Homo sapiens: one gene and its partner. The gene in region 2 interacts genetically with the main gene of each other region. Each region holds a gene or a part of one and is shown on either strand. Other genes may lie near its edges.

Region 1 (3,659 bases), on a different chromosome or scaffold from region 2:
AGAACATATTTATTAGCATATTTTACATGTAATTTGGATCTTCATGTTAAATTTAACATCAGTGGAGATGGAAAATAAGCATATCGCCTTGTCTTTGAAATAGCCCTATATTGTTAGATTGTTTCTTAGGCTTCTTTACCCTGGGTTAAGCAGTCCTAATACTTTAGCATTTATTCTACATCTAGTGTACTAATTTAAAAAAATCAGTTCTGAAAAATTTCTAAGAACTTTCTTCAAGTTCCAAGCTGTGAAATCTAGAACAGGTCAAAGTGCCTTATTAACGTACTGTACTGTGTAGTGTCTTGAAGAGACACTTTGCGCTGAGGCAAGTTCTGAGGGCATTGGGTGGCCTTGGGAAGATATTTATGCAGTTTAGAACCTGGAGAATTGATTAGATAACTAATCATAAGGAAACGTCACATATTTTTGGTACTATAAAAAAGTGGAGAAATAATGCCTATTTGCAAAGATTTGATTTAAACATAGAAACAACTTTATTTGGCTTCCAATTTTAAGAATTTACAGCAGTAAAGGGGAACAGTCTAATTGAAGTAGACTGCCTATGCAATAGTCTCTGTATATTTACTTTTGACAAGTTAATTCAATGTGTACTATAGTTTTGTTTCTTTGAAGAGGTTTGAATAGTGCACCCATTTTAATCTGTATTGCAAATTCAGGGTTACTTGGCAGACTCTACTATTTAAATCAGATGTAAAAGGAAGTTTTAATATAATTCACTTTATGCCTGAAAGTTTTCCTGGGATTTTGGAAGGTGATTTTACTGGAAATGCTGTCTGTCTTCCCTGAAAATCTGAGAAATTCCATTACACTTTGTTTCCAATCAGAGGTCATGAGTGCTATATGAGTATATACAGCATGACGTCATGAATGTGATAAAGTGGGTTAGGAAACCTTTTGCTAATGATTGTTAAAATGCAATATAAATGTTGAAGAAATAAAGCTAACAGTTAAGCCTTTATTTGGGCGGAAGGCTGAAAAAGTTTATAAACTTAAACCTATAACTCTGCTTATGATTTCTGCCAAACCAGAAGACTTGACTCTGGGAAGCATTGGTTACCTGTGAACTTTGAAACTGACGGTCCCTGACGTAGTTTAGTCACCTGGGAAAAGGTATCTGAGATTATCTCTTATCTCCCAAGTTACAGTGAGTCTCTGAGGGAACTGACACATTACATTAAGTTCTTGGTGTAGTTAAACTGTAAGAAAGGCAGGAGAACTTAGTAGTTAAATAGTTGGTTAAATGGAAATGCTGACTCCATGTTATTGTAAAAAGTTAAAAATTTAGGAGGATATGGGGATTTCACTGCCATTGCAGGTTTTGATTGGTATTTACCAATCCGTGTGGGTCAGAGAGAAAATTAGAAAGGATATGACTGCACATTTTGGAATTATTAGCAGTTTTTCTACATTTAAAATGGAAATAAATTTTTTAAAAATTTAAATCAAGTAATACTGTATTTTTTGGTGATTTAGATTTTTCAAAATTTACACTAAGAGATAGTAAGGAGGGTGGCTATTGTTTCTTTCAATAATGTCTCTGAGAGGTTGTAACTCATCTAAGGATACGTAGCTAATAAGTGGTAGGATTTCAATTTAAATTCTCTGAGACCAAGTTAAGTAGAATTTGCACTGTACTCTTGTATAACTTTTTAAAACTGAAAATTAGCTATCTTTCAAATTAAGAAAATATTTACTAATGGAGACTAATTCAGATTTGTAAGTATACCAAAATTTGAACTTAGCCTGCTATCTAATGGCAACTTAGTGGCAGAGGTATGATGTAAAATCATTCAGGTATGACACATAGATGGAGTATGTTTGTATTCGAGGCTGTGCACATAATCACCTTTACTTGTATTGTGAAGTATATATTGTTATCTTTTATGAAGCCCACTAAAGAGATAATGAAATACCTCGTTATTAGGGCAAGATTATTGAAAACTCAAAATAGCCCCCAAACACAATACTTGGCTAGAAATATATACCTTTATAGTTCAGAGATCATTTATTATCAAAACCCTGAAGTTTTTTTTCTAAGGTAAAATTTGGTGGAAGAGGAAAAGTCTCGTTTTAAAAAAATGTAGGTAGTTACAGAGATCAGAATGATTAGTTGATCACTTACCAAATATATATTAAGTATCTACTGTATATAATATGCTAGTAAGAATAAATATAGCAGGAAGTATTTTTTCCCAGGCTCTAATTGTTTGACATCAGCATGCTTTTATTGTGGCACTTATAATTCAGTTCAAGTATTATGCCCCTCTTTGATGGAACAGTTTCCTATTCAGTAAGGAAGACCAGATTAATCATTGGATTGGTTTGTTTCATCTTTAGTGTTCTGAGCTGTAGAGTATTTATTTACCAAGGTTTATTTTAATTTTTATTTTATTTTTATTTTTCCATGTTCATTGTAGAATTCATTTTACCTACGAATGAAGTATGTAGATTATAGAGAGAAAATTTGTAAAATTAAACTGATACTGAAGACTGGTATAAGAAAAGCCTTATGTAATTTGTAAGCTGCTATTCTTCTGAGTTTATACATATATCTTTAGTAATCAATGAGGGATGGTTGGGTGACTGCCCTCCAGGGGACATTTGGCAACATCTGGAGATGTTTTTGGTTGCCACAACTTGGGGAGAGAGTACTGCTACTGGCATCTATTGAGTAGATGCTATTACTTTAAATGGCAAAGCTGCAGTTACCTTTGCACCAACCTAATATTAAACTTCCTGCAGTGCACGGGAAAGCCCCCACAACAGGGTTATCTGACCCCAAACCTCAATGGTGTTAAGATCCAAACCTTGATATGTTAACCTGTAGCTTTAAACATCCTTTAAATTGTCAAATTCATGTCCCTGACATAAGGTTTATGTTAGATTTTCAAGTATAACAAAGATTTAAACTTTAACTTTTGTACGTTAATGATATGTTAGCTTACTCCAGTCTTCTATTAAAACATTCTGTTTTTAAAATCAGAGACACACAGCAATTTTATAAATCATTTCTCTTCAAGGCTGTGAAGCTCTCCCCACTTTTGTGAGTGCCCTCTACTGGTCAAATTATTTGCTTTATAACAAGTAACAGTGAAATCCTAAGTTTGTGTAGTTTCGCTGTTTAAATTATGGGTGGCATCAATTTATAAATATATTCGTTTTATTTAAAAGTCTTATATGATTGATTTCGTATCATTTTTGCTCTCTGCTAATATTAATATAAAGATTACTGTCTGTATTAGTTAGGCCTAACTAAGTAGGTGAGTATAGTGAACTAAGAAAGGAAACGAGGCAGTATATAAGAAAATAGGGTGGTTCAGTTGTTAACACTTACTGAGCTTACTTTGTTGAAGGGACTAAAAGGCAGCAGTGTGGCTCTCTGAGCTTCTTTGCATGCACTCAGGAGCTGCTTAATGGAGTCCAAGGCTTGGTGGTGTGTTACAGGGGATGATAGGAGGGTCCTATTCAGAAGTGGCAAATTGTGAAAGTGCACATTTTGTAGAGTTTTATAGGACTGTAGAATAGTTGTGAGCACCTGATTTTTAGAATAAACAGAAAACTCAGGTACTGTATTTAGGTCAAATTAAGAATAAGTATTTATTAAGACCTGAATATAAAACTTTACTGGTCATGGTTTT
Region 2 (2,865 bases):
GCCAAGAGCCCCAGAGGTGAGGGGCATTGGGGTCAGCATTCTCCTCTAGCACCAACAGGCACATGCAGTATGACTCTGGGCTAAGTCACAACCTGGCCGTGATTCCTCCATCTGTAGAATGGAGATAAACTAACTGCACATTTCACATGACTGTTTCAAAAAAGGTTAAGACATAACTCAATTCTTTTTAAAATAAAATGCTTTTAGGAAGGGGGGGAAAGAAGGAAGGATTATTTCCCAGGCTAGATTAAAACACCTTCATATCAAGTGCAGAGGGAAGGAAAAACAAACTGGAAATGGCTAAGAAACTATATAGAACTAGTTTTTTCCCAAGGGCCTAGAGAAGCTTTCACAGAATTCAAGGCTTTCGGGAAGTCAATTCATTTCCTTCTGTCCTTTCTTCCTGGGCCCAGTAACTCAGTGACGCACTGTAATATAATCCAGTACTCAGTGATCACCTTGGGAAAAAAATGGAAAGACACCCTAAGAGATGGCTCTCTTCACTGGGCCATCAAAGGGCAAATCAGCTGAGACCAACACAGTAATAGACTCGTTTATTTCTCAGAATTTAGTTTGCTGCTTGATATTACCTGCAAATGTGAGGCAATCACACAATGTCCTTGAGGCTCTAATCCCAGACTTGTCTGAGCACCGTCCACAGGCAGCTCGGCCCATCAGAGGTCTGAAACAAACCTCCTAACTTGGGCCAGGTATTTTGGTTTCAAATAGTCACCCAGCTCATCCTTAGTGACCCACACATGATGGCCCTTATTCCCAGCCTGGGAAAAGTCTCCAGTTAATAGCAGTGCTTTGAAGAAGAACACCTTGGCTCCGAGGTTACTCTCTGTCCGCATTGCCTGGGGGAACTTGAATGTGTAGTGCCCACAGGGTGCATTTCCTAGGAACTTGGCTTCCATGTTGTTTTCTGAAGAGGGAGGAAAGAAAAATCACAATTGGAAGGTAAGGATACAGCCATCTGTTTACTCTGGCTCCCAAAATTATAGGGGGTCCCTGCAAGATCTGGCCCTGAGGTAAAATCAATCCCTAGGAATAGGACTAGAGCCATTCCTGAAAAGAGGCTCCTCCCCTCTCAATCCAAATGCCTCCTGGCCCATGGAGTCCAGATTCACCAGGCTCACTCCCATGTGCCAAGCTACTGTTTTTAGACTGAAAGTCAGCAACACAGTTACAATCACACCTGGGAGTCAGAGCACCTAGTTCCTACATTCAGCCCAGTCGCTATCTGCTGGCGAATCAGCCCAGTCGCTATGCTGGCGAATCAGCCCAGTCGCTATCTGCTGGCGAATCAGCCCAGTCGCTATCTGTTGGCGAATCAGCCCAGTCGCTAACTGTTGGTGAATCAGCCCAGTCGCTATCTGCTGGTGAAGGACGAGGACATTTGGTCTGTAAAACAAAGTTCATCCACCTTTAAAATGGGTGTCACCTGGAAAGCATTAAAAAGGACCCCAGTTTTAACTCCTACCTAGTGAAAAAAGGCATAAACCAAGTTAAAGACAAAAACAGATGAGTAGACAGTATCTGTAATCTATAACTAAGGGTTAACAACCCCAATTCAGCATTTCAAATGATGGGGAAATGATGGACTAATTACTAAACGGCATCTGAAGAACTGATTAGCCAGATGGGAAAAACCAAGCTGGATTCCATACTCAGTCCTCACAATAAAATTGATACCATATAGATCAAAGATTTAACAATAGACATTTTAACTTTTCATAAAAAATTTATTCATTCTGGATGGTTGTTTCATGGACATTTAATATTTTCCAATCTTCTCTGTATTTTTTTTTTCCCAAGACAGAGTCTCGCTTTGTCACCCAGGCTGGAGTGCAGTCGTGCAATCTTGGTTCACTACCACCTCAGGCTCCTGGGTTCAAAGGATTCTCATGCCTCAGCCTCCTGAGTAGCTGGGATTACAGGCATGTGCCACCACACTCAGCTAATTTTTTTTCTGTATTTTTAGTACAGACGGGGTTTTGCCATGTTGGTCAGGCTGGTCTTGAACTTGTGGCCTCAAGTGATCCGCCTACCTCGGCCTCCCAAAGTGCAGGGCATATTTTCTAATTACAATAAAAACACATGAGCATTAGAAGAAAATGCAGGATGCTTTCTTAAACCTTAAGATATTATTTGAGAGGGCAAGGCCTTTCTAAGCAAGAAACAAAATTTTTAAGCCCAAAAAACAAAAGATTTATATTTGTCTACATAAAAATTAAATCTTTCTGCAAGGAAAAATGAAGCACAAAAAAAGTCAAAGACAAAATGACAAACTAGGAAAAATATTTTCAACACGTTCAACAAAGGAATATCTTAAGGTATAAGAAGCACTTAAAAATCAATGCAGATACTCAGGAAGCTGAGGCAGGAGTACTGCTTGAGAATAGGAGTTTAAGGCCAGCCTGGGCAACATAGCAAGATTCCATCTCTAAAGGAAAAAAAATCAATGAGGAAAAAAAACAACAAATTAAAAAGAAAAATGAACCAAGCACATGAACAGTTAAGCTCACATGAAAATAAATATCACTGGCCCATAAATACATTAAAAGGTGTTCAAACTTATTAATAATTTAAAGAAATAAAGTTAAACAACAACATATATCATTATTGAAGTTCAAAAACTTAACTGTACTCTGCTTATGAAGGATAAGGAAAAAACCTGTACTTTCACACATATTTTGGAGGGGTTATAAATTAGTATAAGTGCTATTAATTGGCAAGAGGTGTCAACTTAATTGCACATGCCCTTTGACCTAGCAACTCCAGTTCTAGACTTTTATCCTACCAGATATACTAATTTGCCCATGTGAGCAAAGATGAGCATACAAGGATATTCACTGCAGCTTT

The links. Genes that interact genetically often act in the same process or in processes that back each other up.
Region 1: changes in MRPL46 (region 2) and KRAS are lethal when combined (synthetic lethality), as found in Homo sapiens cells (2 studies listed by BioGRID, with this or other methods).

The regions. Positions count from the first base shown.
Region 1 is NC_000012.12:25,240,789-25,244,447, reverse strand, and holds part of KRAS (GTPase KRas), read left to right. Parts: intron 1-3,659. UniProt on the Homo sapiens protein: Ras proteins bind GDP/GTP and possess intrinsic GTPase activity. Plays an important role in the regulation of cell proliferation.
Region 2 is NC_000015.10:88,458,939-88,461,803, forward strand, and holds the end of MRPL46 (large ribosomal subunit protein mL46), read right to left. Parts: intron 926-2,865; coding exon 675-925; 3' UTR 540-674; downstream 1-539.